Linked DNA regions of Homo sapiens: regions 1 and 2 are each linked to region 3. Evidence: fine-mapped expression QTL. A gene starts in region 3. Each other region holds a variant in brackets. All regions are shown on one strand. Distances are from middle to middle.

Region 1 (10,846 bases), 1.0 Mb after region 3:
AGCCGCCCTTTTTCTAATAGTCTCAATTATGTCTCATTTGTTAAATATACCAATTAAATTATTAGTTTAAGCTATCGTATGTTTCGGCCTTGAATTTTTATTTGACTCTGTTGTATAGTTGTCATTTCTTTTCTAAATTCCTTCATTTGCTGTTTTGCATCTTTAGAATATATGTGATTGATATGTTCCAGTCCGTGGCTAATAACTCCAATATCCATTTCTTTTGTAGCTTGTTATCTCTTATTGATTGATGGTTTGGATCTTTGGGCATTTGGTTTTGTCTCTTCGTATGCCACATGATATTTCATACTTGACACTGAGTACAAAAATTATAGGAAAAAACTTGAGGCTCTGAATAATGTTATATTCCTTCAGAGAAGACATATTTTGTTTCTGGGAGGAAGGTCTGGTGGGGGAAGATTGCCTTAGTCCAGTTAGGGATTTATTCCATGGGAAACTGGGCTGCAGACTTGGTGAGGACAGATCTATTTCCAGTTGCCCTTCCACCTGTGATGTAGTTTTTCAGGGTCCTCGCTGAAAGTCTGGGATGTCTACCTGGACCCCTTCTCCTTGGCATATCTTCAGTCTAATTTTGTCCACCAAGACTTATAAGACTGTGAAGTTTGGTTCAGCTACTCAGCCTCTTCATTGCAGGTTGAGAATTGAAAATTGCTTCATGAGAGACAGTAGCACTGAATGTGGGACTCAGGTCTCCACACGCTCACTCTCCCCAAGATCTTATCCTCTCAGGTCGTCACTGCCTTAGTAACTCACTGAGGCCCTGACGTAAGATTTTCTACACATATTTAGCTCAGCATTTTTAGTTTTTCTCAGTGGGAGCATTGGTCTTCAGCCAGCTAGTCTATCTACTTCACTCTCACTCTCATCAAATTATTTTATTCACACTTTACAGATCTTGAATTTGAGGCTAAATCATCCACATTACAAAGACAGAAACCCAGCCCCGCCATGCTCTCCTCAGTCTGTCTAATCATAAGACATAAAAAGCTAAGCCTCTTTCTACTCAGGCCCCTATTTCATGTCTCATTCTAGGGTCAGTTGTCAAAGAAATCTTGATAAGAAAGTATTAATTCTTAAGGGGAAGCTCTTCCTCATGGATAACTGCATTTTATTAATAGAGCTGTTTTGAAGGCCTACAGCCTTTGATGGAAATAACTATTTTGGAAGAATAGAAGTGAAAGGTTTGCTGTTGTTTGCTTGGGTCTCAGTAATACCCCTGGGGCATCTACCCCTACACATACAGCCAACTTTGCCTTTGAATCTCCCCTCTCCATCTGAAGTCTTTGTTCTTTCCAATGGATTTATAGCAATTTACTTCCTCATGAAAAAAGAACTTGCATTCCTGAATCTCTGCAATGAACTGAAGAAGCTAACTGTACAACTCAATCCTGCCCACAAGTGGGCAAACCAACAAAACCCTTTGAGAAAGTTATATCCTATTTTATCTAATAATGGTCAAGATGCAAAAGACGTGAATGTCCTCTTTTATAGCAAGGACAAAAAACTCCACGAAGATGAGTGTATTTAAAAAACAAAATTGAGGCCAGGCGTAGTGGCACATGCCTGTAATCCCAGCACTTTGGGAGGCTGACGCAGGCAGATCGCTTGAGTCCAGGAGTTTGAAGCCAGACTGAGTAACATGGCAAAACCCTGCCTCTACAAAAAATGTAAAAATTAGCCGAGTGTGATGGTGCACACCTCAGTCCCAGCTACTTGTGAGGCTGAGGTGGGAGGATCGCTTCAGCCCAGGAGATCGAGGCTGCAGTGAGCCATGATTGTGCCTCTACACTCCAGCCTAGGCAACAGAGTGAGACTCTGTCTCAAAAATAGTAATAAAATAAAATAAAATAAAGCTGCTTATTAGTTGTTTGACCTAGACATAAATTCATTTAACTTACCATAGCCTTGATTTCTTCTCTGACAAAATGGGCATAGCAATCATACCCTTTCATAAGGTTGTTGGCTGGGTTGTATGAAGTCATTCATGTGATTATTGATTAATTGAGTGATTTTTCAGATTTCACAAGAGTTTGAAATAAAATAATTAAAAATTAATAAATTTTGTTATAAAGGGAATGGCACTGTTTCAAACTTAGCTGCTGCTATTGCTGCTGTTTGGTAATAAATTCTAGTCCCCTTTTGACTTCGATCAAAATCTGATGCCCTAACTCAGCTAGAATGAGTTTTCCCATTGCCCATGTGTCTATTTTTGTTAAACGGTGGACCCTAATCAACCGAGGAGGTGTTTGTTATAGAAAACCAATGACTAGGAATCACCTTCTCAGATACAGAATATGAGGCCCCAAGGGGTGAGGGGAGGTGTCCATGGTTACTAGACCTGGGGGTCTCCTGACTTCTAGGCTGCGAGGGAAAATATCACAGAGTATGCTCTGATTCCTAGAGGGCCAGAGGGGCTCCTTTGTGATCCCAAGTTCTGGTTCACCTTCTATATGGAGTTGTGTTCTGGTCTTAAGGGACTTACCCTTCCATTCCATCACTTTCTGCCATCAAAACTTTCCTTTCTGTTTTCTAAGACAATATCAATGGCTGTGGATATTGAACAATTGTCTGATAAAAGTGATTTTTGACATTAAGGATCTAAGTGCTCATATTTGAGAGTCTGATCTAGTGACCCTCATGAATAACAATCACACCTTACTTAGTACTGGGATTTTCCCTTTACAGTTGATGTTTACTTACATGATTGACCTGCGTAACAGTTTAAAACAGGTAGGACCACGAGGTCAGGAGATTGAGACCATCCTGACAAATATGGTGAAACCCTGTCTCTACTAAAAATACAAAAAAAACAAAAAAATTAGTCAGGCGTGGTGGCAGGCACCTGTAGTCCCAGCTACTTGGGAGGCTGAGGCAGGAGAATTGCGTGAACCTGGGAGGCTGAGCTTGCAGTGAGCCAAGATCGTGCCACTGCACTCCAGCCTGGGCCACAGAGCAAGACTCCATCTCAAAAAACAAAAACAAAAACAAAAACAGGTAGGACCACAACAGTAACAATAACTGCCATTCATCAAGTGTATTTTGTTTGCAAAAATATCTTCACTTTCATTTCTTATTTAATTCATATGCTAATCCTTCAAAGTGGGTGATATCATTACCCATTTAATAAAATGGCAATTGCAGCTCAGAAGGCAAAGAATGTGCTCAGGATCATAAAGCCAGTAAGTGATGTAGAGAGATTTTCAACCCAGTTTGTTGATTAGGCAAAACAGTAGTCTTTTCACGGCACCTTACTGTCTTTCCCAAGTTATTTCTCCAACCTGTACAGAGAGATTGTGCCTTGACTAAAAAGCGCCAGCAAGTTTATGATGGGTGGTTGAGTCAGGAGTAGAGTTTTAATCTTCTAAACCTTAACCCATCTCTCTTTCTATTGACCATACACTTTTCTCCCCATTAGCATCTCAGCTTTTAGAAATGGACATTTTGTGAACCTCCCCATTGCATTGCATCTCAGTTGTTGTATTTGAGATGCTGGAACGTGGAGATGCAATGCAGTGAACTCAACAATCCAAAATAGCCAATCCAAAATTTTGGTGTCTAAAGAGTTACCATTTCCACTATAACAGATCGCCATCAAATTTACTTAATGTCAATATCACATTATGTACACTTTAATTTCCAACTCAGAAAAAAAGGTCTAGATCTGTTTGTGGCTTTATTACCAATGTCACCATTATTTTTGAGCCATTAGTATAAGGAGTTCAGATGTTTGAGTTCCTAGAGTATTAAATAAGAGAGAATTTAGACAACCTTAATTTTTTTTCTTTTTTTTTCTTTTTTAACCATTGTCATGAGACAGACTCAAGTTCAAATCCCAACTCAGTCATTTATTGATTGTGTGGACTTGGCCAAGTTGCTTAACCTCTGCGTCTCAATTTCTTAACTTTTAAAATGGAGATAAAATCTACCTTGAAGGATTATAAGGAAGAAAGGTTATTTGTAGGCAGTACTTGGCATGCAAAAGCTATAACTTACTAATAATAATTATTATTTTATTTATTTATTTATTTTTCATATATATTTTTTATTATACTTTAAGTTCTAGGGTACATGTGCACAATGTTCAAGTTTGTTACATATGTATACATGTGTCATGTTGGTGTGCTGCACCCATTAACTTGTCATTTACATTAGGTGTATCTCCTAATGCTATCCCTTCCCCCTCCCTCCACCCCACAACGGGCGCTGGTGTGTGATGTTCCCCTTCCTGTGTCCAAGTGTTCTCATTGTTCAGTTCCCACCTATGAGTGAGAACATGCAGTGTTTGGTTTTTTGTCCTTGTGATATTTTGCTGAGAATGATGGTTTCCAGCTTCATCCATGTCCCTACAAAGGACATGAACTCATCATTTTTATGGCTGCATAGTATTCCATGGTGTATATGTGCCACGTTTTCTTAATCCAGTCTATCATTGTTGGACATTTGGGTTGGTTCCAAGTCTTTGCTATTGTGAGTAGTGCCGCAAATAAACATACGTGTGCATGTGTCTTTATAGCAGCATGATTTATATTCCTTTGGGTATATAGCCAGTAATGGGATGGCTGGGTCAAATGGTATTTCTAGTTCTAGATCCCTGCAGAATCACCACACTGACTTCCACAATGGTTGAACTAGTTTTCAGTCCCATCAACAGTTTAAAGTGTTCCTATTTCTCCACATCCTCTCCAGCACCTGTTGTTTCCTGACTTTTTAATGATCGCTATTCTAACTGGTGTGAGATGATATCTCATTGTGGTTTTGATTTGCATTTCTCTGATGGCCAGTGATGATGAGCATTTTTTCATGTGTCTGTTGGCTGCATAAATGTCTTCTTTTGAGAAGTGTCTGTTCATATCCTTCACCCACTTTTTGATGGAGTTGTTTGTTTTTTTCTTGTAAATTTGTTGGAGTTCATTGTAGATTCTGGATATTAGCCCTTTGTCAGATGAGTAGATTGCAAAAATTTTCTCCCATTCTGTAGGTTGCCTGTTCACTCTGATGGTAGTTTGTTTTGCTGTGCAGAAGCTCTTGAGTTTAATTAGATCCCATTTGTCAATTTTGGCTTTTGTTGCCATTGCTTTTGGTGTTTTAGACATGAAGTCCTTGGCCATACCTATGTCCTGAATGGTATTACCTGGGTTTTCTTCTAGGGTTTTTATGGTTTTAGGTCTAACATTTAAGTCTTTAATCCATCTTGAATTAATTTTTGCATAAGGTGTAAGGAAGGGATCTAGTTTCAGCTTTCTACATATGGCTAGCCAGTTTTCCCAGGACCATTTGTTAAATAGGGAATCCTTTCCCCATTTCTTGTTTTTTGTCAGGTTTGTCAAAGATCAGAGAGTTGTAGATGTGTGGTATTATTTCTGAGGGCTGTGTTCTGTTCCATTGGTCTGTGTCTCTGTTTTGGTACCAGTACCATGCTGTTTTGGTTACTGTAGCCTTGTAGTATAGTTTGAAGTCAGGTAGCCTGATGCCTCCTGCTTTGTTCTTTTGGCTTAGGATTGACTTGGCGATGCGGACTCTTTTTTGGTTCCATATGAACTTTAAAGTAGTTTTTTCCAATTCTGTGAAGAAAGTCATTGGTAGCTTGATGGGGATGGCATTGAATTTATAAATTACCTTGGGCAGTATGGCCATTTTCACAATTTTATTCTTCCTATCCATGAGCATGGAATATTCTTCCATTTGTTTGTATCCTCTTTTATTT[C/A]ATTGAGCAGTGGTTTGTAGTTCTCCTTGAAGAGGTCCTTCACATCCCTTGTAAGTTGGATTCCTAGGTATTTTATTCTCTTTGAAGCAATTGTGAATGGGAGTTCACTCATGATTTGGCTCTCTGTTTGTCTGTTATTGGTGTATAAGAATGCTTGTGATTTTTGCACATTGATTTTGTATCTTGAGACTTTGCTGAAGTTGCTTATCAGCTTAATGAGATTTTGGGCTGAGACGATGGGGTTTTCTAGATATACAATGATGTCATCTGCAAACAGGGACAATTAGACTTCCTCTTTTCCTAATTGAATGCCCTTTATTTCCTTCTCCTGCCTGATTGCCCTGGCCAGAACCTCCAACACTATGTTGAATAGGAGTGGTGAGAGAGGGCATCCCTGTCTTGTGCCCGTTTTCAAAGGGAATGCTTCCAGTTTTTGCCCATTCAGTATGATATTGGCTGTGGGTTTGTCATAAATAGCTCTTATTATTTTGAGATAAGTCCCATCAATACCTAATTTATTGAGAGTTTTTAGTATGAAGGACTGTTGAATTTTGTCAAAGGCCTTTTCTGCATCTATTGAGATAATCATGTGGTGTTTGTCTTTGGTTCTGTTTATATGCTGGATTATGTCTATTGATTTGCATATGTTGAACCAGCCTTGCATCCCAGGGATGAAGCCCAGTTGATCATGGTGGATACGCTTTTTGATGTGCTCCTGGATTCGGTTTGCCAGTATTTTATTGAGGATTTTTGCATCAATGTTCATCAGGGATATTGGTCTAAAATTCTCTTTTTTTTTGTTGTGTCTCTGCCAGGCTTTGGACAACCTTAATTTCTTATTATGCTCACTACTTCTTGTGGCTGAGCCAAAACACTCATGCTACAAGACTAAATCAGTTTCTGGAGTTTAGAAGTCTTTAGTGCTTTCTTCTACTTTATTGAATTAGTTCTTCATTGAGAGAGAGAGAGCATATCTAGGAGGAGCCAGCCTGTCTTGGATTGTAGTGATATTTTGAATGGTTCCTTTACTTGTTTTTGAAAGCTCATAAACCCCTGTTAAGTAGACTAGGTGTCCAGACCTTCATCCTTGATGCTGGCTCAGGCCCATCTGTGGAGATTGACATGGCTTTAACTTCATGATGAAGTTAATTTCATCTTTTAACTTCATGATGAAGTTAATTTCATCATTTAACTTCATGAGCTATAGACCCATCATAGATCCATCGATCCAGTTTTCCTTCCAGGCCCCACATTAACTGTGCCAAGACCAGAAAACACAGAGACTTGGCCTAGACTTTTTTCTTGGATACTCCTTTCTTGTGAGATTGCCACTGGAGCTCAGCATCTTGGCCTCTCCCTATGAGATACAGTGGGGGTGAATGAGGAGGGTAAACCGGCTGAGGATGCAAAAAAGAGAATGACTCACTAGCTGTGCATCTTAGCAAGGCATGGAACTTCTAGCACGTGGCTGCTGGCAAAAGCTCAAATAACTGTATATCTGAACAAAGAAACCATATTCAGGACTGCTAAATCCCAGCAACTTAAGGCTCTGCCAGGCAAAGCAAGAGAAAGAAAGGGGAAGGATTTGAGAAGGGGTTAATTGAGGGTGAGGTAAAGAAGTTTTACTCTGTTATCATGTTGACCAATTTGTATCCATTTGCCTTTCTCCTTTGAGTCATTGTCATTTCAGTTGCTGAGAAGTGGACTGAAACCTTGCTGTTAGATGAGGAAATAACCCTGCCAATTATACACACACACACACACAAACACACACACACACACATTCCCCACACTGGCATGCCACTGCCTTTTTCAAGATAGGAGGAATCCCTTAACTAGTTATTTCATCATGCATGAAAAACCCCAAAGTAAAAATGTTGGAGAATTAACAAAAAAAAAAAAGTTACAGCCGCCAAGCCAATGTTGCATTATTTTCTCAAAAACTCATGATGTCATGGACTTAGCTCACCTTTAGTGCAGCCATGCGAATAATGTGTACTGAGCTTTCTATCATGTACCATTATAATTAGCTCTGTCAGGTCTTAGCCCTGCAACCCTCATGCAGATAATATGATAATATGTCTTCATAACCAAGTGACCTTACATGCACAATATTTCTCCCCTTATGAAGATTGCATGTCAATAAAGTAATTGAGTCTCAGAGGCTGCAGCGAGGGAAGATTTAGGTGATTGGACGTGGAGAGCAGTGATGTATGATGATTATTATTCCTCTTGTCAGGGAGGCGCGTACAAGCGAGGATGGCCAGAAGATGACAGGGATGACGGGTTGCGTTTCATTAAAAAAAAAATTGCTGTTAATCACCACTCTATTCTTTTCAAAGTCACTGAGGAAAGAAACTCTTTTTTCATTGTAGCTACAATGAACATCCCCAAATGGGAGCACATCGTAAGATTTTTAGCCTCAGTCCCCTTTCACAGTGTCTTTCTTCTGTTGCAAAGAGGCTAAATTAAGATTTTAATTAATAGATCAGCCATGGGGGCCTGGGCAGGGGCCACCCAGCTTCCCTGCTGTAGGGCTCCTTGGGTTTCCAAATGCAGAAAAGGCGCCTGCCGAGATGGAATTGCACTTCCTCTCCTCTCTGCGTTGAGAGAAGTGTGCTGGTGAGCTCTATAAAAAGAAAGCAAATGTGAGAGAACCAGATCCGAGACAACTATTTTTACTTGAATTAATTTGTTTGGACAGTTTTAACACTTGGAACATTTATATTTCCATACTTTATAAAAGCAAACATGCTGTTTCTCTAGCTGTAAATTTATCTTATGATATCATAACAGCTGGAAACTTGTAGCCTGGTAGGATTTTGTTTCATATTTAAACAGCTTGAGAAATATGTCGGAAACAAGGTATATTTTCCCCCATCTCTGTGTGTTTTCTCCTCTCGTATTAGGCTACCTTAGGAGTGTCGGCAGTATCATTCAGAAGATACTGAGGCTCCAGGATTTTTATTAGCCTGGCATTGTTAATTGCTGCTCCCTTGCAAACCTCTTCCTATAAATGCTGAGAACACACTGGAGCCCCTTCCAGAGGAGTTCAAGAATCTTTTCAAGGGGAAAGAAAGCTAACAGTAAAAGCATCTTTTGTTGGCAGAGGGGCTTCTGAAGTCTTTAAATCTTTGTTCATAAGTAATTGACTAAGATCTAACAGCCTTGAAGGAAAGGAGCTGATGGTATCACTTTTTAGTCATAGTATTAACCTTGTGATTTATGGTACAAAATTAGCCACTGCATCCTCTCATTACGGGTGCTGAGTGATTTCTCCAGGCAGGCAGGAGGGAATTGAGAGCTGGATTTTTGTCTCCTGGAGCTCTACTGTTTCCTCCTAGGGAACCACAGTGAGTGTTTTTAGGGATAGGAATATTGTTTTCCTTCCATTTTCTCTGCTCTGTAAAAGAAAATATCAAATGTAAGTAAATAAATAACCTAAGGGAGCTAGAATGTTCAGAGGAAATGTTAACCCAAGGGTGGTCCAAGGGTGGCAGTATAGAATATAGAGTTTCAGATAGGGTCAGTGAGTGATTTCAACCTCCTAATTGTCCCACAACCCCCTCCTCTGCCTCCACAAATTCAAGGCCAAAGCTTTCTGAGTATTTTTTCCATTGAATAGTATCTGGAGTAGAGATTATATCCATTTCTCCATCTGGATAGTTTTTTCCTAATGAATTAAAAACCACCTAATAGACTTCAGGGACACTAGGAAGACTCTGATGATTTCAAGAATTCATAATCCTTATTCTATGCTGACATTGAAATTTTACAAGTGGAGCTTTATCTCTACAGTTCAAGGCTTTGGTTTCTGGTGAAAAATATGTCTCTCCCTGGGAGGAAGAAGCAGATTAACCTATTATCAGTTATTTACATCTGGGTGGAAAAAAAAGATCTAAATATTTTCTGAATGCTTTAAGTAGAGAACAAGCAAGATAATAACTAGGTGCTTGGGGAGTGAATTTACGTGTTTGAGGCGGGCTGATGCAGAGAGGAGCATGGATGCGAACGGGCCCATAACTAGGAGCTTTTTGCTGTTGAAAAGCAACTTTGCTGACTGCACAGTTTGTGTGAGCCCTCCTACAGCTCAGTTCTCTCCTCACATCAGCCTGCTTCCCTGGGTGACGACAGTGTTAAAAGCACAGACTTCAGAGTTAGACTGCATAAGTTCAAATCACTTCTCTACTACTTGCAAATTCTGGGGCTTGAGAAAGTCACTAGTCTCCTGTATGTAGCTCAGTTTTCTCATTTTTAAAAGTGACAATAATGGTGCCTTGCTCTAGGGCAGTTATAAATGTAACATCCTCATAATAACCAATAATAAGAGTATAATCAGTGCTGCCTGTTGTTATTATCCCAGTGGATGATAACTTAGACCTATGCTGGATTCGTTGTCATTGGTGATGGTGGTGGTGCTGTGGATGATAAAGAGATGATAGATCCTGATATGGTTTGGTTGTGTCCCCACCTAATTCTCAACTTGAATTCCCACATGTTGTGGGAGGAACCTGGTGGGAGGTAATTGAATAATGGGGGTGGTCTCCCGTGCTGTTCACATGATAGCGAATAAGTTTCACAAGATTTTATGGCTTTAAAAAACGGGAATTTCCCTGTACAAGCTCCCTTCTCTTGTCTGCTGCCATGTGAGACATGCCTTTCACCTTCTGCCATGATTGTGAGGCCTCCCCAGCCACGTGAAACTGTAAGTCCAATAAACCTCTTTATTTTGTAAATTGTCCAGTCTCAGGTATGTCTTTATCAGCAGTGTGAAAATGGACTAATACAGATCCTAAATATAGCAAGTGTACTGGTGCTTAATTTCCCTTTGTAAAACTTGAGTCCTGGCTGATTATCTCCAAACTTTCCCTTGACTTCTTTCCCTGTATTTTAGTTCCAGTGTGTATAAAAGTGAAAGCTGAACTTTCTGAAATGTCGTGGGTGTGGGCCTGGGGGTGCTGCTGGTGTGGTGCTCCTTTACTGGCTCTGTCTTGCCATAGATCTCCACAGAGCCCTGAGCTGTAGGGCTGTTGATGACAAAAAGAGAACATAAAATGCTAGAGGAAAGATCATTCTAACACGGTGCAAATCCCCAAACCTTCCCTACAATTTCTCTGTCTC
Region 2 (10,846 bases), 23 kb after region 3:
CTTGCTAGACCTTCAAGTTCTCAACCAGGAAATTCTGCTACTATAGAGGGCATTTTATTGTCACAGTGATGGGGGTGGGCTCTATTAGCATTTAGTGGGTGAGGCCAGGGATGGCAAATGTTGTCAGGGCATAGGACAGCTTTGGATGAAAGGAATCCTTCCCCCACTATGCCAACTGCAGCCTGTTGAGAAAGACCTCTGGGGCCCTGTTGGAGATGGCTGGCAGAATGGTTCTCTTGATGAGCTTCATGATAAAGCAGACTTGCCAATAATACCAAGAGAGAAGACTGGCTCTACTCTCCAAAGGAGTCCAGGGACAGAGAGTCAGACAGATGACATCAGAAGTCATGTTTAGGCTGGGTACAGTGGCTCACGCCTATAATCCCAGCACTTTGGGATACTGAGGTGGGCAGATCACTTGAGGTCAGAAGTTCAAGACCAGCCTGGCCAACATGGCAAAACCCCATCTCTACTAAAAATACAAAAATTAGCCAGGTGTGGTGGCATGCGCCTGTAATCCAAGCTACTCGGGAGGCTGAGGCAGGAGAATCATTTGAACCCAGGAGGCGGAAGTTGCAGTGAGCCAAGATCGTGCCACTGCACTCCAGCCTGGGCGACAGAGTGAGACTCCATCTCAAAAAAAAAAAAAAAAAAAAAGAAGTCGTGTTTATTTTCAGCCAACATTATCAAGTATACACTACATGCCATGGCTGGGCAGAACACTTACATATGTTATCTCATTTACTCCCAACAACATTTTGAGAATGGAGCTGTTCTTATCCACATTTCACAGATGAAGCAACTGAGGCCCAGAGAAGCAGAGTAATTGCCTGAGACCACCCTGATGGTTAAATGGGAGAGCTGGGATAAATGGCCCCAGTGGTCTGACTTCAGCTTTACAGTTATCCTAAACTGCTTTTCATGGTGTAAATCTTTTTTCTGTGTGTGGGAGAAGACAGCTACTGCCAAGCCTGTATTTACTTTTGGGTGGGGATTGGGAGGGAAGTTTCCTTCTTTTTTTTTTTTTGAATCATTAAAGCCTGTGGAAGTCACTATACCAGGGTCTGAGTAGATTTTGTTGCTCTGAGTTCAAGACCCTAGAGGCCCTGAAGTCATACGTATATAGCATTTCCTGCTCTCTCCCATTTCTCTAAAACCTTTCTGATTTGGAAAGTTTGGCGAGGCAGGACCTCATGAGGCCTGGGAGGTGGGAGTTTCCCAGAGAACTTATCTTCTTCTTTCTTCCTCTCCCCTGCTCTGTGAGATGTGGTTCAGATCAGAGATCGCAGCCGTGGGACAAATGGCTCAACAACTGCTGACTGTGGTGCCAGCCTTGGGACTGGGGGACCTTGAGATGGACAACTGCATGCTTGAATTTTGAGTCTGAAGGGAAAAGAAGAGGTGCGTGGGGGTGTGTGTGTATTTGCACATGAACTCACTTGCCTGCACACACCCACCGTCTGAAAGGCCTCTTTCCTCTCCTCAGGGACTGTAGTGTTGGTGATTTCAGCTGTTCCCTGCTCCTTGATGATGAAAGGGGAGCGATTATGCTTTTTGCTGGGTGTCTGTGTTTAATTGCAGGGATATAATAACTACAAATTCTCCCTGGCCGAGACTTTTCTAATAAAAGGTTTCTTCCATCCCAGCTGCTTTCTCTTCCCTTTCACACCCCCACCCCCATCACTGTCCTAGCACAAGGTCACTTAGGGTTTTAAATGAGAGAGAGACACACACATGTTCAGGTTTCGCGTAGAGTGTTTTTTTAAAGCTCCTCCTCCAGACCCATCATTATGGAGATCAGCTGCTTGCCCCCACCTCTGCACCACCTCCCCTAAGCTCCTTGCTGAGTTTATACAGAACCCAATTTTTCAGTCTCTTGGGTGTCTGCTTTTTCTCTGGTTCTGAAGAAATAAGAGACGGGTAGAACAGGGAAGACCAACAAAAGAGGTTTAAAAGAAAAAAAAAATCACCAAACCATTCTTGAGATAAAGCAAGACTTATTAAACACAATTGGAGGGAGGGCAGGAGAGGCGGTGTTAACCCCCACACGGCCCGTTTCCTGCAGCTGGAGAAGTGTTTTAAGAAAATGCACCATTGTTAAAACTTTCTTTTTCCTTGATGGATTTATTTATAAGGTAGAGAAATATTTTCCCCATAATTGGGTAACTCTTAATAGTAGCAATTGCATATTTATCAGTGTGAGGGGCTGTTATTAATGTAACTGTCAGGCCCAAACACATTTCTGCATTAAATCCATTTAGTATGTGCATTATTCGGGCTCGAATGTCACCGGGACATCAAAGCCCCGTAGGCATGGAGAGCTCAGTGCCCTGCTGTGGCTGCCGAACAGGCCCTTGATCAATAAATGTAACATGTTAATGCAGAGCAAATAGAATAAAAGATTTCTTTGACAAGACATGAAAAATCACCTTGTGGCAGCTGGCATGTGATGCCGTTTCTGGGGAGACACTAGCAAAGTTGATCTGACAAGTAAAGAGGAGAGATGATGGTTGTAAGGTGCTTTTGTTTCAAACTTCTTTCTTGACCTGTCAGGTTTTGAAGGCGCCTCAATGGCTCTTTTTTGTCATGTGAAAATTGTAGTCTTAGGTAGTTATGAAGCAGTTATCTCTTCTCAAATTGTGAATGCTGCTGTTTAATTGATTCACTTAGCATTTGAAACTGTCACGCATTAATAATTGCGAAATCCTGTAGATACTGCGTGAGTGTGTCATGCTTAAATGTGTAGTTATCAGAAAATTAATATCCTTAATGAACCGGTGCTTTCAAACTAACATTGCATGAAATCTCTTTTGCCCTTTCATTTGCTGAAGCCACATCCGCCAGTTTGCCGAGAATCACCTCTCGACAGTTTGCTTTCTTGATGCCCGACAAATGCCAGCTTTGCTGTGGGTACATCGCGTGCTCAATGACAATAAATATAGTAATTATACTGGAGTTAGTAATTAACATAATTGTAGTCAATTACGACAAATACAGTGCAGAGCTAAATAAATGAGAGGGGAGAAATTAGCAAGCTAATTGATTTATCTTTACTTGGCTTTCTATTACAACTGGCAGGGCTGTTTTTCTTGGGGTAGGGGAAGTGGAGGGGAGAAAAATTCCCCACAAGGATTGTTTACAAATAACTGATTTTGTTTTGAAGTTGCTTTTGACTTACTACACTTCATCCCCTACCCTGCTTCTAAGGGGAAAAAAAGAAAAGAGAGACTTTAAATGCCAAGGGAACATTTTGTTAATTTAGCTACATCAAGCTGAATGCTGCAGCTAAGGCGAGGCAGGATTTAGCTTTCGCTACGTCTTGAGGAGTTATAATTTTTTCTTCTCAGCTATTGCTCTGGTAAAAAAAAAAAAAAAGCATTTTTTTGGTGTGTGTGTATGTGTGTGTTCTAAGTCTCCATCGGTGAGGTGGTGCTGTGCTGGATAGTACATTTGGGGGTTATATGTGCATGCTAATTTGCTCAATTCTGTGCCGTTGGCTTGGTGTAAGAAGTGGGCATGTTTTCCTTGGTTCAGTCCCACTTGGTCTTGTTATGCCTTTTTCTTTCAGTACCCAAGGAAGGGACGGAGGAAAGAAGTGGCCAGCGTTGTTGGAGAGGTCAAGGGAGGGGCTCCAGTGCAGACCCTCTGCTCACTTCCTCCTTCACTACACTTCAGGATTTGCCTGGGGTCCTGGGCTGTCACACTCCTGAGGCTGCGTGGAAAGTTTTTGTTGGCGTCTCGATGCCCATTTATTTTGAGCTGGTTTATTCTGTGCTGCCTGGAGCCCTGGTTAGTGGTGTTTATCGCGCGTCTCTGTTCTTTGTTCACCCTTTTCAACGTGATTGCTGTTCACGCCGCTAAGGGAGAAACTGCATGTTTTGAGACTTGGGGTCACATCATAGCCTTGTTTTTTCTTGCAAATTTTAGAACAGGATTTTTTTTTCCCCTTTGCTTCTTGCCACAAGATAAGGGCTAGTGGCCAGAGCCTTTTTTGGATCGGGTTTTAAAGCCTTACCCTTGTCTTACCCAAGGTTAAAACTCAGTGATTTCAGGATATGACTTTTTTTTTTTTTTTTTTAATGTATCCAGTATCCATTGTCAACCTTACCACCACCCTAGGTTATTCCTCTGAAAATTCAGCAGTTTAGCAAAGCAAAGATTTGTTTAGCTCTTCTTCCTGGAGATTTCACTGGATAGGTTTCTAGCCTGACTTGAAGGGAGTTTGAGGCAGCAATTTTAATTCTGTGTTGTGCATATAATCCTTCATGACCTCATGTGGAATTCAGTTTTCCAACTGCATTAAAAAAGCTGCCTGTATTTTATTTCATTGGGATGCACTTGGACACTGCTTAGTGTGGTCACTTGATTTGGAAATCAATTTCTGATATGAAATATTTATATACAAGAAAGCATTTAAATTATTTAAAGTTTACAAGCATAATGGTCTTTCCGATGGAGTCTCAAATTATTTTAGTAAATGTGGGGATCTTTTGAGAGGAAAAGACTTGTATATTTGGGGTGGCTGGAGGGGTAATGTTACCTGGAACTTCAGCCTGATTTAGTTTAATATGGGTCAAAGAGAAATCAGATGAGTCATATATGCAGCTTTGTTTACCCAAAAAAGATAAATTTCAGATATTATTGTATACCTCCAACAGGGCATCCTTCTGTGAATGCCTTCAGAGACAGAGAGAGAAAATGTGTGAAGAAGAGCTCTGGCGGTTGACCTTTGTCCAAATGTGGCATTTATAGTAGTTTTGTCTCTGCCTGGAGTCTCTACCTAGCTGCTGGTTTCCTACACTGTCTTTTCTTTTGAATTTCATAGCAAACATGAGTGGGGAAAAACATAGGTTGATGGCACAGGAAGCTTCTTTTCATTTTTATTCCTTTAAAATTAAAGTTGTGCTAATTGAAGCTAGCTTTAGTTTGTCCCCGTACTGCTAAAGAAATGAAAGCATGGGATCATTTAGATGTATTCTTTTCAAATACAGTGCTGTTTGCAAAGGTGCCATTTTTTTCCCGAAGACTTTTCTATTTCACTTAGACATACAACCCTCTAGAGGTTTAAATATGTGAGTTTTGAGGTGCTTTGTTCCTCAAAAACCCTAATATGTTTTTTTCTTTTAACATTTGTTCTGCTTCAGCTCTGTTGA[T/C]TGAATGTATTAAAATGCATTTTGGGGGTTGGTGGAGCAGAAGGTGAGAGGGGATGGGGTGTGTTAAGAGCTTTTGCTGACTTCTGAGGAGATAGATGGTTGGGCATTGCCCACTCGCTCGCATGTCATATGTAGGGGTACAAAGTTGTGATCCCTTTCCTCACCCATCATAGGGGCCATGGCTGACACCTGTGTAACAAAAGACAGGTTAGCAAGAGAAAAGCATAGCAAATTTATTTAATCAAAATTTTATGTGACACAGGAACCTTGTGAACTGAAGGCCCCAAAACCCAGGGAATATGATCTGTTTCTATGCTAAGGTTGGATGAAGAATGGACAGCCATGTAGAAATGTCATTGGACAAAAGGGTATGATCTAATGGTAACAGACGGAGGGGGCAGGGAACCCAGCAAGGACTGCCTGCCTGGATTCTTCTTGGCTTCTCTGTGTAGCATCCTTCCTCCTGGCTATAGGGCAGGACGCTTCTGGAATGAGGGTCTTATGACCAACTATCAGACAAGGTAGGTCAGAGAATTTCTTTGTAGCCAGCTCCTACACAGAAAGGTGGGGGAAGGTTTGAGTAATATTTTTAGGTTTTATGGTTTGTTTTGGGGGAGAGGGGTTCTACTTTCTACAGACCCACCTTGGGGAGGAGGAATTCTGGCTTCTGCAACTCTCACTTTGGGGTAGTAAAACGGGCAGGAGACGGTCAGAGAGGCCTTGCATCCGAGGCAGCCTCTGAGACCTTCCCGTCTCCTTTAGTTCCAAGTACTCAGCATGCCAAAGCACCATACTCTGGGGTATCGTTTTCCGAGTCCCAACACAGTCTTTAAGGTGGGGAGGGTGCACTGGAATTGCCTGGTGGGGTGTTAATTTTGTTCCAGTGACTTATTTTTCAGAATGTATTCCCTATCCCTTCTAAGTGCTTCCTCCGAAAGTGCTGTGAGCCAGGAGCCTGGGCGGCAGCCATCTTCACCTGTGCTGGCAGTTGGATCACGAGTCTGTCCTGGTTGGCTCACGTGAATTCTTCCCAGATGCCTGAGGTGGACCAATATCACAGAGAGCTAACCATTCTTCCAGTTGTAATTGGATATAGCAAATCAGTACTCTGAATTCAATTCTTTCAGGCTGGGCTTTGGCAAGAAAAAAATCAGCCTTACCTGGGGTATAGAAAAATGGAGCCTGGCAGTGGCTCCTGAAAGTCTTTCGTCAAGTGCTCTGCCTCTGAGGAGCACTGTATTTGTTCCAACTCGTGTCGTGAAGCACAGAAGAATGACAGTAGGGGTAAATTTAACCATACACACCAAGGCTTTTCTTATCTTCTTCCTCTAACTGGTGGGTAGAAGTCAGGCCTGGGCCACTTATGTTTTGGAGGATGCCAGTAGGGTTACAGTGGTCTTTCTAGCTGCCTGGTACAACGGGACCCCTCCTTGGAGGCACCTGAGCTAGGTGGTCTTTCTTTAGGGTCTTGTCATGGCTTGTACAGGCATGGCAATAGACTAATCCTTTGACTAAATGAGAGTGGGAACTGCCCAGAATAGCGTGATTTCCCCAGAACTGTCTTCAGATATACTCAAAGGCTGAGAACTTGACCACTGTCCCTTGCAGGTCTCCTCCTGTTTATTGTAGATACATAGGTATTGTTGTATACCTTCAGGTATCGAGAGACAGAGTTCCTGCAAAGGCCCCGAGTTGGGTTCCCAGCACGTGGACCTTACACCTGTGATGTTTCCCCATTTGAAAGCTCACATGCTCAATGTGGAGATAAGGCTAATACAGGTGAAATTATTAGAGAACAATATGGGGCCATGGTCAGATTCTCCCTGTGGACTTTGAGAACCTTTCAGTTCTCTCCTACTGGGGAACATAGCGACTCTGTCTACTGCCTGGGAAGCTTATTGTCTTTGAGCTAGTGAGTGGCATTGGGGAGCTATACATGGAGAGAGGGTTCCCAGCCAGCCCAGCAAAGCAGGTAAAATGACCCAGGTGAGACCTGGGTTGGCTCCTAGACAGGGGCATACCTTATGTACACACAGGATAGCACAGTCCAATTAATTGCCAGGAGTATAATAGAGGTTCTCATGCCCAAGAAGTTGTCAGAAGGGAGAGCATCTTCAAAAGAAACTTCATGAAGAAACTGAGACCTGAGCCACCTCCTGGAGGGAGGGCAGGATTTTCCATGCTGCCTTAAGACTTCGGAGCCTGTACAACATCAGGGCTTTGGGGCCAGGATTTTCCTGAGTAGGAATGGTGAGAACCTGATCTGTATGCCCTCAGGGGTGGGTTGGAATCCACAAGAGAAACTGGAGAACAGGGTAAGTTTCTTCCCACACCCAAAGACATAAACCCTTTTGCTGTGTAGCGTAGTGGTGATTCTGGGACATAGAAGCTGGCCATGCCAGAGTCTTTCAGAGAGGCCAGCCAAGTAAGGACTCAAGGTATGGGTTCTCCCATCAAATTTTCACCCTGGAGTGACAGGAGTTGCGGGGGAGACAAGCCACCTCCAGCGGGTGGAGGGCAGCCCATTCCCAGGCTGAGCAGGGCCTGCGTTTCGGCCCTGACACATATACGCGGCAATTACGCTGTTAGAAGGGTCACGGTTAATGCAGTTCTTCCAAGACTCCTGCCACAAGCATGTGCCTCTTCACACCCAGCAAGGCCCTGTGGGCTGGCTCTGTGCTCGTTCAGAAGGGGAGGAACCAAAACTTGAAACCTCATCTTTCAGAAATTGCATTTATTTTCACTCTTTCATGCCACAGTGTTTCTGCAAGGCCAGCACTTAGGGGTACATTCTTCCCTGGGAGAATTGGTAGATTATTGATTCTGTGAGTGCCTTAGGGCCTTTGCAGAAACTCTGTCTCCCATTGAAATGTATGCTTTTCCAGGATGGGATAACAGCTTCTCTTTCAGAAGTGCCCAGGACAGGGTTACACACTAGGTAGGTGCCCCTCTATCAGAAGACACAATCTAACCTGGGAATTCTTCTTTTGCTAAAATGGATTTTATTTTATTTTATTTTGTTTTTTGAAAAAGAGCTTGCTCTTTCGCCCAGGCTGAAGTGCTGTGGCACAATCTTGGCTCACTGCAACCTCCGCCTCCCAGGTTAAAGTGATTCTCCTGGCTCAGCCTCCCGAGTAGCTGGGATTACAGGTGCGTGCCACCACTCCCAGCTAATTTTTGTATTTTTAGGAGAGTCAGGGTTTCACCATTTTGGCCAGGCCGGTCTCGAATTCCTGACCTCAGGCAATCCACCTGCCTTGGCCTCCCAAAGTGCCAGGATTATAGGCATGAGTCACCTCACGTGGCGGTAAAATGGATTTTAAAAAAAACATGGTAATTGCTTATTCTAGAAGAGGTAATGGTACTGGTGACTCCCATTCATCTATCAGTTTTCCCTGATGACCTTCTTGAATCTTTATGGCAAGCAAGGTGTTCTTTCCAGCTTAAAGACAGAGAACAAAAATGTGCAGAGGTTAAAAGGCTTTCCCAAGGGCATGCAGCTGGTCAGTGGGGGGACCAAGATCTAAATGCAGCTTTGCCTGACTACAAAGTCGACTGTTAGCTCCTATACTGTATTCTATTTGATGCATGTTTCCCCTAATTCAAATTCATTGTTGTCCTAAGATCTTTATCTGGCAAACTAGTATAGGTTGACTGAGAAGAGGAAAATTGTCTTCCAGGCTCATGAAAAGGGGACAACCCCTACAGCGTAGTGGTGATTCTGGGATGTAGAAGTTGGCCATGCCAGAGTCTTTCAGGGAGGACAGCCAAGTAAGGACTCGAGGTATGGGTTCTCCCATCAAACCTTCTCCCTGGAGTGACAGGAGTTGCGGGGGAGACAACTAAGGCTGCTGTTGTTTTATTTTCTTCCCAAACTTATATTTCACCTTATCATTTTTTCAGGAGGAGATAAAACTGTAGGCACTGAGGCTGTACATTAAATAATAGTGTTTTGAAAGTCTATAGAAAATTAGGTTAAGTTTTATTGTCCTGTTCCTTTATGGACCACCAGTTTTTGGTTCTATCTCAGATATGTTTTAGTCCTCTTGCTGCTGCCGTTTATCTGGACGGCATTTTCCATCAGTTACAGGCAAAGAATATTGTCCTCTTTTCTCACTCCTCAGAGTGTTTCTGGGTTCCAGGGGAAAGAGGTGATTTGAATGCAAATGCACTTTAAATCACTAACACTACATAACTCTAATGCATTACTGCCATTTTTTCTTTTTACTTTTAATTGAGAAACTGAACTCTTGCTAGTTTGAAGCTCAGAGTCATTGTTGGAGACCAAGAAGCTGGGGTATTTCTGGCTGGAGGATGATCTAGTAGAAAATCAAGGAGATCATTAAGACACAGGATGCCTGAGTATTGAGTATTGAGTATTTGTCTTTGTTCCATCACAAATCGTCTGTGAAATATTGAGTAGGTCATTTAATCTCTGTTGTCATTCTCCAAATGGGAGATAGAAGGAGTTGTGAAGACCAAATGAAATACTAAATGTAAAAGAGTTTTGTTCCTGTAGAAGATATACTGAAAGAGTAGATATCCCAAAAGTAGTTTATTTCATTTTTGATTCTTTTGACTTTGAGCAGGTTTATCTTTAAGATTATTTTGCTTGGGGTCCTATGGCATTGGTTGTTTATAGGTTTGGTTTTGCAAAGTTAGGGCTCTGTGGGGGGTCTACTTCCTGCCAGACTGTAGATTGCAAAGTTATGGACTTGGGTCTGAATGGCCAGGTTTCCCTTGGGCAAGGACAACTGAGAGTATAACATTTTCCAATTCAATTATGTTTTAAAAGGGAAGAGGGAGGAAGCAGAATCTTCATTAGAACAAAATAAACATGATGATTATTAGCAGTGATAGAATACTAAATAAGGTATGTCATTATAGTAAGATTTTAAGAAAGCCAAACGTCAGAGTAAAATTCCATATCTTACTTAACAATTTTGAGGCATGATTTTTATCTAGTTGTACCTCTGAGCTCAGAGAAGAATTTTATCACCTAACCCTCTACAGCAGTTTCAACATAGATGCACCCCACCCTTCCCCAATTTGCTCTTCCACAGACTGTACCTGATGGGACAAGCTTTCCGTCAGGTAGCAGGAGGAACTAAATTTACTCTTCCTGCCTTGGGCTTGAGAACAGTTATCTTCCTGGTTCATGTAGTATCAAAAGGAAGATCATAGACCTTGCAAGGAGCAAGCGGCTATTTTTACAACCATAAAAAAAACTCCCATCTGATTTTTTTGTCTTTACTAAAAGTTTTCATTTTATGCAATTTCTGATCTACCTTGAATTGAATGGTTCAGTTGTAACTTCAGGGTCTGCTTTAGATTTTTTTTTTTTCTTTTAAGGACTTGTTAGAACCTCTTTACAGAAGATGATTGTAAAAATCACAGGCAGTACGCAGCAAGATGGAATGTGGAAATTTGAAATTGATTTAATATTAGGAAAAAAAACCCGCTGCTTTTAGAGTGTTAACTAGTCAGATTGGCTAGGTGCAGTAGTTCATGCCTGTAATTCCAGTACTTTGAGAGGCTGAGGCTCACTTGAGGCCAAGAGTTTGAGACCTGCCTGGGCTGAACATAGTAAGATCTTGTCCCTACAAAAAATTTAAAAATTAGCCAGGCATGGTGGCACACACTTATAGTCCCAGCTACTTGGGAGGCTGAGGTGGGAGGATTGCTTGAGCCCA
Region 3 (10,846 bases):
CTCAACTGATCCTCCCACCTCAGCTTCCCAAAGTGCTGTGATTACAGGTGTAAGCCACTGTGCCCAGCCTCAATGTAGTTCAGCTATATATAACTTTAAATATTTGTCTTTTTGCTAGGAACATTCAAATTATTCTCTCCTAGTATTTTGAAATATACAATAGATTTGGGGAGATGTGCATTTTTATCTAAGTAATCAATAGCTCCTTAGATCAGTTAGTTTGCATTTGAGGAAACTGAGGAACTTAGGAGTGGAAGGATTAATCTAATCTATGAGCACCCAGTGAGTTAGTAGCAAAGCTAGCTCCTGAACCCAGCTCTCCTAGGCCAGGGCACCGCCCACCACAATGCTCCAGCAGTATCAACCTTCATCTGGCCCTCAGAATCTGGCACTGGTGGTGCCAGGTGCACTTGACACTTGCTTTGCCCCGGGTTCACAGCTGCGAAGAGAGCCTGGGCTTCTTTCGGAGAAGTGGGAAGAGACTCAGAATTAATACTGGTAAGTCACACCGGAACCCTTATGTGCACATTATTGCCCCCCCATATATTCTAAAATAATCCCTGTAAATAATTATAAAAATAAATCTCAGGGACAAATTTTTTATTTCCAGGAACACATTTATTCATCATAATCTCTTCAGGGGTGGGACAAATTGGAGCACTGAGTAGTGAATACAATTTGCAAATAGGCAATGTAAGTAGAGAGAAAATTAATATGTATTCCTTGATGCTCTAAAAGGAGAGGAAGAACATTAATAGCCATTTCCTTGCAGACATAACTTTCAAAATGTTATTTCTGATCTATCAGCGTGAGGCTCCATATGAGGAAAATGGTTGCAACGTGACAAGAAGTGATTAGATGTGAAATGGCATCTTTCAGGTGCTCCTCTCAGCCTCCTTATCCTGTTTTTAGTGGGACATAGGAGGAGTCCTGTTTTCTTTTCTGGCCTGGGGTCACCTGCTTATTTGCTGGGTGACCTTGGGCAAGTCCCTTCTGCCCTTTAAGCCTCAGTTTCCCTCATCAGTAATTGGAGTAGATGATTTCTAAAGCAGTGAGTTTTGGATGATCATAAATCCAAATTATTTTGGGAGTACTTGAGAAAAATACAGATACTAGGGGACCACCTTAATGAACTGACTACCAAGTTCTATGTATTTTAATTGAGGGTGGGAGGAACCCTTCCCCAACTTCCAAGTGGCAGAACCTCTCCAAGTCAAGCTGGGATTCTGGAAAGGTGCTCCCACTGGAAATAGACAGTTGGGTGGGTTCTCTTTCCCTCTTGAAGGTCCAACGTGAGCCCCCCTCCTCCAAGTCAGCGATGACTTGCCTCCCATGCCCAGCCAAGGACTTGGAGTTGCGGCGAGTTCCAGGTAAAATGGGAAATAAGATTTGTTTCTCATTGCTGTTTTCAGGATTTGTTAAAATAGTACTAAGAGATTAGCAGATAGTAGTTTTCATGGTAAATTCTCTATTCTGTGCCAATCTCCTCCTTTTTTGTTTTTAATTATAAAAGTAGTATACGCATGTTACCAAAACCACAGAAGAAATGGAGTGAAAAGCAGAAGCTCCTTTCCCACTCCCACCTTCCTCAAACCCACTCCATTCTCCACAGCCAACTAATGTTTGCATTTTACTTTATTTTTATTTTTCTAGCAAGAGAATCTTACTATGTTGCCCAGGCTGGTCTCAGTGCTAGATTACAGGTATGAGCCACCATGCTCAGTCCTATTGTTTGCATTTTCACAGAGAAATAATGACAAAACCTTTTAAGACCTAAAGAGAAGGAAAACAGCCATGTGCGGTGACTCATGCCCATAACCCCAGTACTTTGGGAGGCTGAGGTGGGTAGGTCGCTTGACCCCAGGAATTCAAGACCAGCCTGGCCAACATGACAAAATCCCATCTCTACAAAAAATACAAAAAAATTAGCCAGGTGTGGTGGTGAGTGCCTGTAGTCCCAGCTACTTGGGAGGGTGAGGCAGGAGGATCACCTGAGCCCTGGGGTCGAGGCTGTGGTGAGCTATGATTGCGCCACTACCCTCCAGCCTGGGACCCTGTCTCAAAAAAATAAAAATAAAAAAAAAGAGAAGGAAAACTAGAGGCACTGAGAATAATAAATTAACATTTGTGGAATGAACACTCATCCTAGATATTATGATGGTATTTAATATATATTTTTAAAAATTCAGTTTGTTCTGATTGGGAAATACTGGAGGGGCTTTGGAGCACAGATCATCCTCAGTCCCCTCACATATGTGCAAGTACTTTGAAGAGGGCCCTGGAAACCTTTCTTCTTTCCTGCACTTCCTAGACTTTCTCCTTTAGGCTGAAAGGGGGCTGCTTCGGCAACAAAGAGCATTTCATAAGCGGAGCATTTCTTAAGTAGACACCCCGCCTTTTTTTTTTTAAATTGAAATTTGAATGTGGTGAGTCTGAATTAGGGCCCACGGCATGATTAATTACAGCAACCATCTTAACCTGCCCGGGGGCTGGGCCTGAAAGAAATGAGGCCAGGCTGAAGAGAAATACAGCTAAGGATAGTTAGGAATGCTAACAAAACTTGGTTAACTGGCCCTGTTCTTCTCTCAGCTGCTAATGCACAGTTGGAAGATTTAAGGAATCAGTTCCTGTTTCACTGGTTCTGGCCGACCCCAGAATCAACTCCCTTGATTGGAAATAAACAGGATCTTCCTTTTTGTCCCCAGGAATGTGATGGAGGAAGGACTCTAAGGCAAAGGGCCTCTTCTGCCAAAGCAGAATAATAATAACAATGATGACAATAGGAATAAAATATTGCCCTCTTCATCAAGGGCGATAAGAGAATGTCCAGTTGTATGAGTTGAACCTTGTTGCTCTCTATGTGCCCGTCAGAGCTCCAGAATTCACAGGCTCAGGGTGGTCAGCATAGGTTGGATTTGAACTTTCTGTTTTGTGGTCCTCCTGAGTGCACTTGTACAAGCTGGGCTACGTGCTTCAATTTGGGGTTCAGAAAACAGGATCACAATGACAGCACTTCTTGCTGACACAGTGCTGTGAATGTCTGTGCACAAGTCTGAGCGTCTCTCCTGAACAGTATTAGTCAGGGATGTCCCTAGTGCCTAGCACAAGGCCAGAAGCTGGGGCACAGCGGCTGTGAAGTAAGATGGGCAGGATAGGAAGCTAGCAGCTCACTTTCAATGAGTCATGGAGTGGGGTGAGAGGACCGTGACTGCATGAGCCCATATTTTACCTCAGTGCTCCTGGGGCTGGGGCAGAAAGAGCTGTGTTCAGGACGAAGCCCCTACAGGACTCGTCTGCTATGTTCACCCTTGTAAAGTCTTTGTATTCCGGAGGAATTATTTGTCTAACTCCTAGGTCAGTCTTATCTCAGTGTTTTTTTTGTTTTGTTTTGTTTTTTGCTCTCTCCCCTCCCCGAGGGAGGGCTACATTATGGAGGAACTTTACTATTTCTGTTTAATCTTCCTTTTTGTTGGCAACAGTGATAAGGAGGTAGAAGGATGTTCCCCCTCCCGGCTTCCAATCTTCCTTGGTCCAGGGACACAGATTCTTTTTCTTTTCCTTTTACCTTTCTCCCTTCCCCCCTTCCTCCTTCTGTTCCTTCTATTCTCCTTTCCCCTCCTCCTTCTCCTTGTTCTTCTATTCTGAAGACTAACTCCAAAAGCTGAGGAGTAAGGACAGGTGAATCCAGTTTGTTTCTGCTGGTGTCCTCCCCCAACAACATTCAGGAAATTACTTCTGCTACGGTCTGAACATTTGTGTCCCTCCCAAATTCATATGTTGAAATCATAACCTCCAAGGTCTTAGGTGGAGCCTTGTGGGGGGTGATTAGATCATTGGCGTGGAGCCCTCAGGAATGGGATTAGTGCTGTTACAAATGAGGCCCACAGGAGCTAGCTTGTCCCTCCTACCATTTGAGGACACAGGAAGAAGGCCGTTGTCTGGGAACCAGAAAATGGGCCCTCACCACACACCAAATCGTGGGTGCCATGATCTTCAGCTTCCCAGCCTCCAGAACTGTGAAAAATAAATTTCTATTGTTTATAAGCACCCAGTTTATGGCATTTTGTTACAGCAGTCCTAGTAGACTAAGACAACTACTTTGCTCAAGAACTTTCAATAGCTCCCTATTGTTATCAGTTTACAGTTCCAACACTAAAGCCCCCCTCCAACAGAGCTATCCTGATCTTAATTTTTGTGATTTCTGCACATGATCCTTCCCCACACCATCAACTGGCCTTCTTGATGTGTTCACCAAGCAGAGACAGCAGTAGGTGGGGAAGCATTTCCAGCTGAAACTAACAGCTTCTGTGAAGCCAGAGGACGGGAGAGCTGGGACAGGTGGCTGAAGAGGTAAGAATTGATGGGATTATAAGAGATCTTCAGGGACATACTAAAGATTCTGGACTGTATTAATTATTACTTGATTAGGAGCCATTGAAAGATTTTAGGTAGGATCTAATTGGGCTTTTAAAATGGTTGCCCTGGGGCTATGTGGAGGAGGCAACAGTAGTGAGAGGGTGTGGAAAGGGGGAAAGATGCCAGCCCACTTTGGTGACATTGGTAGTGTCTGCAGAACAGCCTATGCTCAGATGACCCAGCTGTGTATGGAGGCAGGGGGATGGATGAGATGACCTTCAGTAACCCCCTTCTGGTGGGGGAAGGGAGAGCCGTTCTCCAATCTCATCTTTGAGTCAGCTTGGGCCTGTTTCCACAAGTCCTCTTCCATCTGTCAAAGCCCTTCTAGGAAAGCTGAGCTGAAAGGCAGCTGCGGAGGGCAGAGTGCTGGCTGGGTCCGGGCTCACTTCCTCCTTTTCAGGCAGGAAAAGCAGACAAAAGTGCACAATGGACCAGAGAGGGCGCGTCCAGCAGAGAAGGAGGGAGAAGGCGGGGGAGCTGGTCCTTGGGGCAACAGGCCTGGGAAGGTTCCCTTTGATCCCCTTATCTCTGGAGGGTAAGCTTTCTTTTTTGGCCTGCAGGACCTTTTGTTGCAGCATTTCCTGGAATCCCCCAAAGTAAACACAGTCAAGACTGCATTCTTACTGCTCTACTCTTCTGAGCCTGCTCCTCCCAGCTGAGAGAGGGGCAGGAAGGTCAACCCTCCGAGATCAACACTGCTCATCAAAATGCTGACAAGGGCCCACCTAACAATGTGTTAGGACCGGGGCTGTCTGAGAGACGATGCCAGTTAAGGCTGGGCTGGCTCTTAGCTGCAGCAAGAGTGGAAGATGACAACCAGTTGATATCTGGTAGCTCTGTGCATCCTGGACTTGGAGGCAAGAATAGGCAAGGAGAAAATCTGGATCCTTCCAGAGAATTTCAGAGAAAAACAGGCATGGGTTTAGGGAGTTACCTGCCCACTGGGCCTACTTTCATCCAGACAGGAGGCCCGTGGCCAGCTCTTCCAGGTGGGGATGGGGTGGGTGGGGAACAGCGAATAACCCCACTGATAACTTCAAGCCTCACAAATCTCTTGCCCTCTGAGGAGCAGGAGAAGAGAAGCCTGAAATTTGGGGTCACCAGCCAATTATCCTTCCCCAGGGTTTATTATTGTCAACTCTTAGAGGCCACAGGGAAAGGGTGGGGTGGTCTTCACCAAGCCAGCGTTTTATTTATAGGGAAATTCAACCCCCCCAATCCCCCTCCCCTCCTACAAATGGAAACTGGGCCGCACCAGGAGTCCTTCAACCTTCTAACTTTCCCTCTCCCCAGCTTTGATGAGGAGGGGCGTTCAGCCAAGAGGCCCCTCCTCGCTGCAGTTGAGGTCCATTATGTAACCCAGCTTGCGAAATGCAGGAAAGGCCCGGCTGGCTACAGCCCGGCTAACGGCTCAGAAAGGGCGCCCCTGATAGGAATACCCCCACCTCAGGCGTGGCCCAGACAAACGCGATAAAGCTGTGGGCATGGAGTTTTGGGCATTGGGACATCCGGGGGAGGGAGGGGCGCGGGCAGTCGGGGTCAGGCCGCCGTCGGGGCGCGGGGCGCTGCGGGCCACCTGTTGCAGCGGGCGGCCAGGGCTCACCTGCGCGGAGACCGGGCCGAGGGGCGGCGGCGGCGAGCGGCGGAGCTGAGGTCCCCGAGGCTAGCCCGCGCCTCCGGCTTCCGCCGGGTCAGCTGACTGCCCAGTGCGGAACTGTGCGCCCGCCGCGCTCCCCTGCCGCGCTCCCCGCTGCTGCCGCCGCGCCCCCGCGCTCCGTCCCGCGCGCCCGCAGCGTCCTGGCCGCCATGGCCGGGCTCGTGGTGCGTGGAACTCAAGTAAGTCCCGGCCAGCCCCGCCTCCGCCCGGGGCGCAGTCCGCGTGGGGAGGGACAGCGGGGCACAGAGGCTCCCCAGGGCCTAGACACCCCTGTCCCCGCCTCAGGGGGCTGCGTCTGCAGGGGGTGAGCTTCAGGTGCTCAGGCTCGCCCTAGTGGGGCTAGGACAGACCTCGTTTCGGGCCTGGCACACCCCCTTGATGTGCGGGAAGAACACCCGCAAGGTCTCCCGTTCTCCCCACTTCCTTCTGCCCTTAGCGCCTCACTGAGCAGGCCCAGCGGACACAGTGCTGACGGCCCCCGCTGCTTTTGGGGGCCCACAGAAAATGTTCCAATTTCATAATCTGAATTTTAAAAACTTTTGGTCAAAGAATCCATTTTGATAAATCACATTGATATAGTCATCTTTATACCAATGCAGTTGTAATATACAAATTTACTTATTTGTAAATGGAGGAAGGGGTTTATGAAGGCAAAAGTGTCTAGGGTACCCAAAGTCCCAGCACATCCCTGGAGATGAGGGTGCTGGTGGGCCCTGCGCTGAATGGGCTACGCCATAGCCAAAGGCTGATGGAAGGCCACCGACCTCCAGTTCTCTTTCCACACTCGATTTCTTGAACAGGAGTCTGTGATGAATGGCAACACGCCAGTTTCAATCCTGGGTGCCAGACACCCAGTCTCACATGCTTTGAGCTCTGTAGTGAAGCCTCAGGTGTTCATTGTTGGAGGGATGAACCCAGCCACTCTGGGACCAGGTGTCTTTCTTACCTGCTGGAAAAGCCAGTTCTCTGTCTTTAACCTCTTCTCTGCTCTGATGAAGCCAGAGCCCTCTTACTTCCCACCTTTCCCTGCACACCCTGGAGAAATAGTTCTGAGTTTTTGAAGCTCTCCTCTTGGATTGCCTAAGGCAGGTAGTGTCAGGCACAATTGGATTTTGAGATTACTTTGGGCTGAAGGGAATGATTCCTCCTTAGAGGAGATTCTAGGGGTTTTTACAGCTCCTACAGATGCAGTGAGGGCCAACTGTGCAGCCCATTAAACTAGCCGCTGCCTGTTTTCTTTTTTTCCAGAGTCCTGTCGTTTCATCAGGTACACATGTTTATTGAGTGCCTACTGTATGCCAGGCACCATGCCAGGTGTTGTTGGAAATTAGCCTTTCCTTTGTCTCTGTGCACCCCCCATTTAACAGTTTTGTTGCTCAGGAATGCTGGCTCTGTCCCTTGACCCACAGCCTGGGAGGAGAGAGCTGGAGAAAGACCAGAGTTCAGAAGTGAGTTAACAGCCTGCGGAGAGGCTAAAAATGACGGGTCTTGTTCAGCCATCGGGGAAAGGGGCTTTTTTTTTCTGGGAGTTAATTTACTGCCTGGAGGGAGGGGCTGGACAAGAGGGTCTTTTCCTTCTCTTGGAGTATCTACCTAAGAAGGAGGGTTCCCTGCCCCCCAGACCCTAGGTCTCTCTGCGTTTCAGATTTGGTGTTCTCCCGGTGTACCTTGCTACAAGTTCATGGGGCTGAGCACTTTCCTGTGCTTCCTTTCCCTTTGCTCTTCCTCCGTTTCCTAGATTCGATTTTTCCTGCAGCCCCTGTTCTTAGCCTACTCCAAACAGCCCAAGGGCATTCATGGAAGTGTGGGTGAGGCATTTTAGGCCCTTGGGGACTGTTTTATTAGACCGAGTTGCCTGGGGAGGAGCTAAGAAGGTAGGCTGGGAAAATGCCCCTGGAGTCTTAGTGCCCCATTTCCTAAACTGCCCAGGTTAGTGGATTTGAGTGTCTGGCCCCGGAGGTGGTTTTTTTGTTTGTTTGTTTGTTTGTTTGTTTTTTCTACATTCTGCTCCCAGCGATTTCTAATGGCGGCCGCTTTAAGAGGTAGCACCTTGGATGTGGGTAGCATGGAACAGTACTTGTCAGACTTTAGTAGATCCTTCTTAAAGGGAGGAAAATAAAACCCGCAAAACTTCCCATGAGCCCATAGTGTGAATATAGTTTTTATTACAATGTTACTCAAATATAAAAACATGAAGCCAGAGACAACTTTCCCATATCCAGAGACCTATAAATCCCAAATAAAGGGATGGTTTAAGTGCAAAGAAAAAAAAACCCTATGCAATTAAACAATTTAATGAGATGAATGCTGCGTGGCTTGAAGTTAGGTCACTGCTTTTAATGCCACTATGGGTTGACTGCTGTGGAGCTGGTTTTTAGGAGCTCCACAGGCCTATGATGCCACATGCCTGGGGATGTTGCAGTCTTCCTATTGCTTTTCTCTGCAAAAGGCTTTTCATTTGCCATGGGTCTGACTTCATTTGGCTTCTCTTGGCTTGAATGCATCATTTATGTTCAGCATTAAGTCATTTCTCTTTCCTCTAGCTTATGACAACGTAATACGATCGTAGACACAAATACAAACTTGGAATTTGGGCACTGAAATCTTGCGCCCAAGAGATATTGGAATAATGAATCCCTTCTGTGGGGAGAGTGGTCTGATTCAACAGCTGTTTAACAGAGTGGCCACTGGGTGCCAAGGACAGTGTTGTGCACTTTTAATATGTTAGCTCATCGCATTCCTGTAAGTACAATAGGGACGATAATATGCATGGGGCTGTTTCATGAGGATTGAATAGATAACAAGCACATGATAGGCATTTAATAAATGTTGGTTTTTACATTATTCTTAACACCTTTGGAGGAGTTAGTGTTAGCCCAGTTGCAGAAGAGGAAACAGACTCGAAGATGGTGACTCATCCGCGACAACACAGCTAGCAGTGGCAGTACCGGGAATCAGATTTGTACCTATGGTTGTTTCTACTCCGACAGCTTCCAGTACCACACATACACTTATTTATTTATGAATGAATGATAAGGTCTTGCTCTGTTGCCCAGGCTGACATGCAGTAGCGCAATCATAGCTCACTGCAGCCTTGAACTCCTGAGCTCAGGCAGTCTTCCTGCCTCAGCCTCCTGAGTAGCTGGGAATACAGGTGTGCACCACTGTGCCCAGCTCAGTATTACAAATTTAAAATCGAGGATCTCCCACCCCTGGCTAGGGGTAGGCATCAAAAAATAATCTCCTCAACATCTGACTGTTGACAAACTCATCATCTCCAGAAATGCCCTGGGAGCCAGAGAGTCCCAACGCAAAGTGAAACCTGCAGTCTTCTGCAGTTTGGTTATTTTCTGCAGCTTCGGCTTGGAGGGATTGGGTGTGTACATAGGTGGGGACCCCTTCCAGACACTCTCCTTTCCCTTTCTAGTTTCTTCTCCGTAGGGGTCTTTAACTTGTTATATTTTCATTTGCCTGGTAATGGTGTCCCTTCCTGTTATTCCACACAGGGTGGAGGTCTTAGGGTACAAATTATAGAAAATAGAGAAATTATAAGTTTGAATCTTTGTTCCTCAATGCAGTCTAAGTCAAGGTAATTGACTAAATGCAATGGTGTTCTGGATATGCTCTTGCTTCTGTGCCATTTAAGATCTATTAATCTCTGTATCCCGTCTCCCTTTTGCTGAAGAAGCAAACTATTTTTGGTTTGGCTCTTCTGGCCTTGAATCTTACATTAGGTGGTCCTGTGCTCTAAGAAGCTTCCTGACATCCTGAGAGGTAATGTCTTCCCTCAGAAGCACTTCTTAAGTCTTTTTTCTAGTTTCAAGCATTGCTTGCAATGTCTGGCAGTGGCTGCTTGCTGCTTTTAAGCCTTTTCCAGCTGATTTGAGCCCTTCAGCCTGGTCGGCTTAACTCACATCTCTAAAAGCTTCTACTTTACCACAGGAGTTATCTAAGCATGCAGATTACTTATCGAGTTGGTTCTCATGCTAAACTTTTGAGACTTGGTCTTCACATTTGAGAACAGTGAGAACAACTTGTATTTTTCTTAGTCTTCCTGGGATGTTGTATAGTTAAGACCATGTACTGAAACAGGCTGCTGACAGTCTCATCAGATGTTGTGAGTGATCCAAATGCTTTATGATAGCTCTCCTTGGTGCTCCTGTTTCCTTTGAATGGAATTCCTACAGAAGAAAAAGGGAAGCAAATATCCCTCTCTTTTCCCAGGCTCTAACACTCTTCTTGGGTCCTCAGTGTAGCACCGTGGGAGAAGTTCTTGCCCTTTCAGCTCAGAAGACTCATTTTGAAGCCAAAACATGATGATAGATGCACCACTGGCATTTGCTGATCAAGAAAACTCATGTCTGCCTGGTATGGTGGCTTGTATCTGCAATTCCAGCTATTTTAGGAGGCTGAGGCGAGGGGATTGTTTGAGTTCAGAGTTTGAGATCAGCCTGAGCAACACAGTGAAACCCCATCTCTTTAAAAAAAAAAAAAAAAAAGAGAGAGAGAAATCTCACACCCACACATGGATTTGTAAGCACTCCATGGCCCCCAAGTTGGAAGTCCTTATTTATGGCATAGGACTTGATCTGGGCTCTATCACTAAGAAGCTGTATTGTGCTGGGCAGGGCTCTGGAGTCTTAGTTTCCTTGTATAAAACATCAGAAGTTTTGACAAACTGGGTGTCTATTAGATTTAGTCCTTGGCCATTCTAAGAGGAAAGAGCCCAGTTTCTGCATCTAAAACTCAACGTCTCTGCTATATATATCACAG

Alleles and levels. Alleles are on the strand shown, and positions count from the first base shown. SD is a standard deviation of normalised expression in the study named. Not every link is listed here.
For the expression in cerebral cortex of the gene that starts at base 6,122 in region 3, allele A in region 1 goes with a lower level than allele C (moderate effect, 0.65 SD a copy in GTEx).

The links. PIP is the estimated chance that this variant, and not a neighbour inherited with it, causes the effect.
Region 1: its variant is the best candidate, but not a certain one, in a credible set for the expression of LRMDA in cerebral cortex (GTEx, PIP 0.70).
Region 2: its variant is the best candidate, but not a certain one, in a credible set for the expression of LRMDA in whole blood (INTERVAL, PIP 0.66).

Annotation. Positions count from the first base shown.
Region 1 is chr10:76,421,551-76,432,396 of GRCh38, forward strand. The region is part of intron 6 of LRMDA (leucine rich melanocyte differentiation associated); the gene reads left to right. Among named protein-coding and RNA genes, the nearest start is that of KCNMA1-AS1, 460 kb to the right of the region's middle. The variant C/A (reference allele first, on the strand shown) is at 5,726.
Region 2 is chr10:75,448,516-75,459,361 of GRCh38, forward strand. The region is part of intron 2 of LRMDA (leucine rich melanocyte differentiation associated); the gene reads left to right. Among named protein-coding and RNA genes, the nearest start is that of LRMDA, 22 kb to the left of the region's middle. RefSeq lists an enhancer at 2,052-2,937. The variant T/C (reference allele first, on the strand shown) is at 5,154.
Region 3 is chr10:75,425,503-75,436,348 of GRCh38, forward strand. It overlaps LRMDA (leucine rich melanocyte differentiation associated), which reads left to right and starts at 6,122. Exons shown (of 7, transcript NM_001305581.2): 1 at 6,122-6,252. The coding sequence starts at 6,223. LOC107984293 (a long non-coding RNA gene) reads right to left here and starts at 6,108. Exons shown (of 2, transcript XR_001747703.2): 1 at 6,020-6,108; 2 at 597-4,808. RefSeq lists enhancers at 5,930-6,430, 6,431-6,931 and a silencer at 6,072-6,171.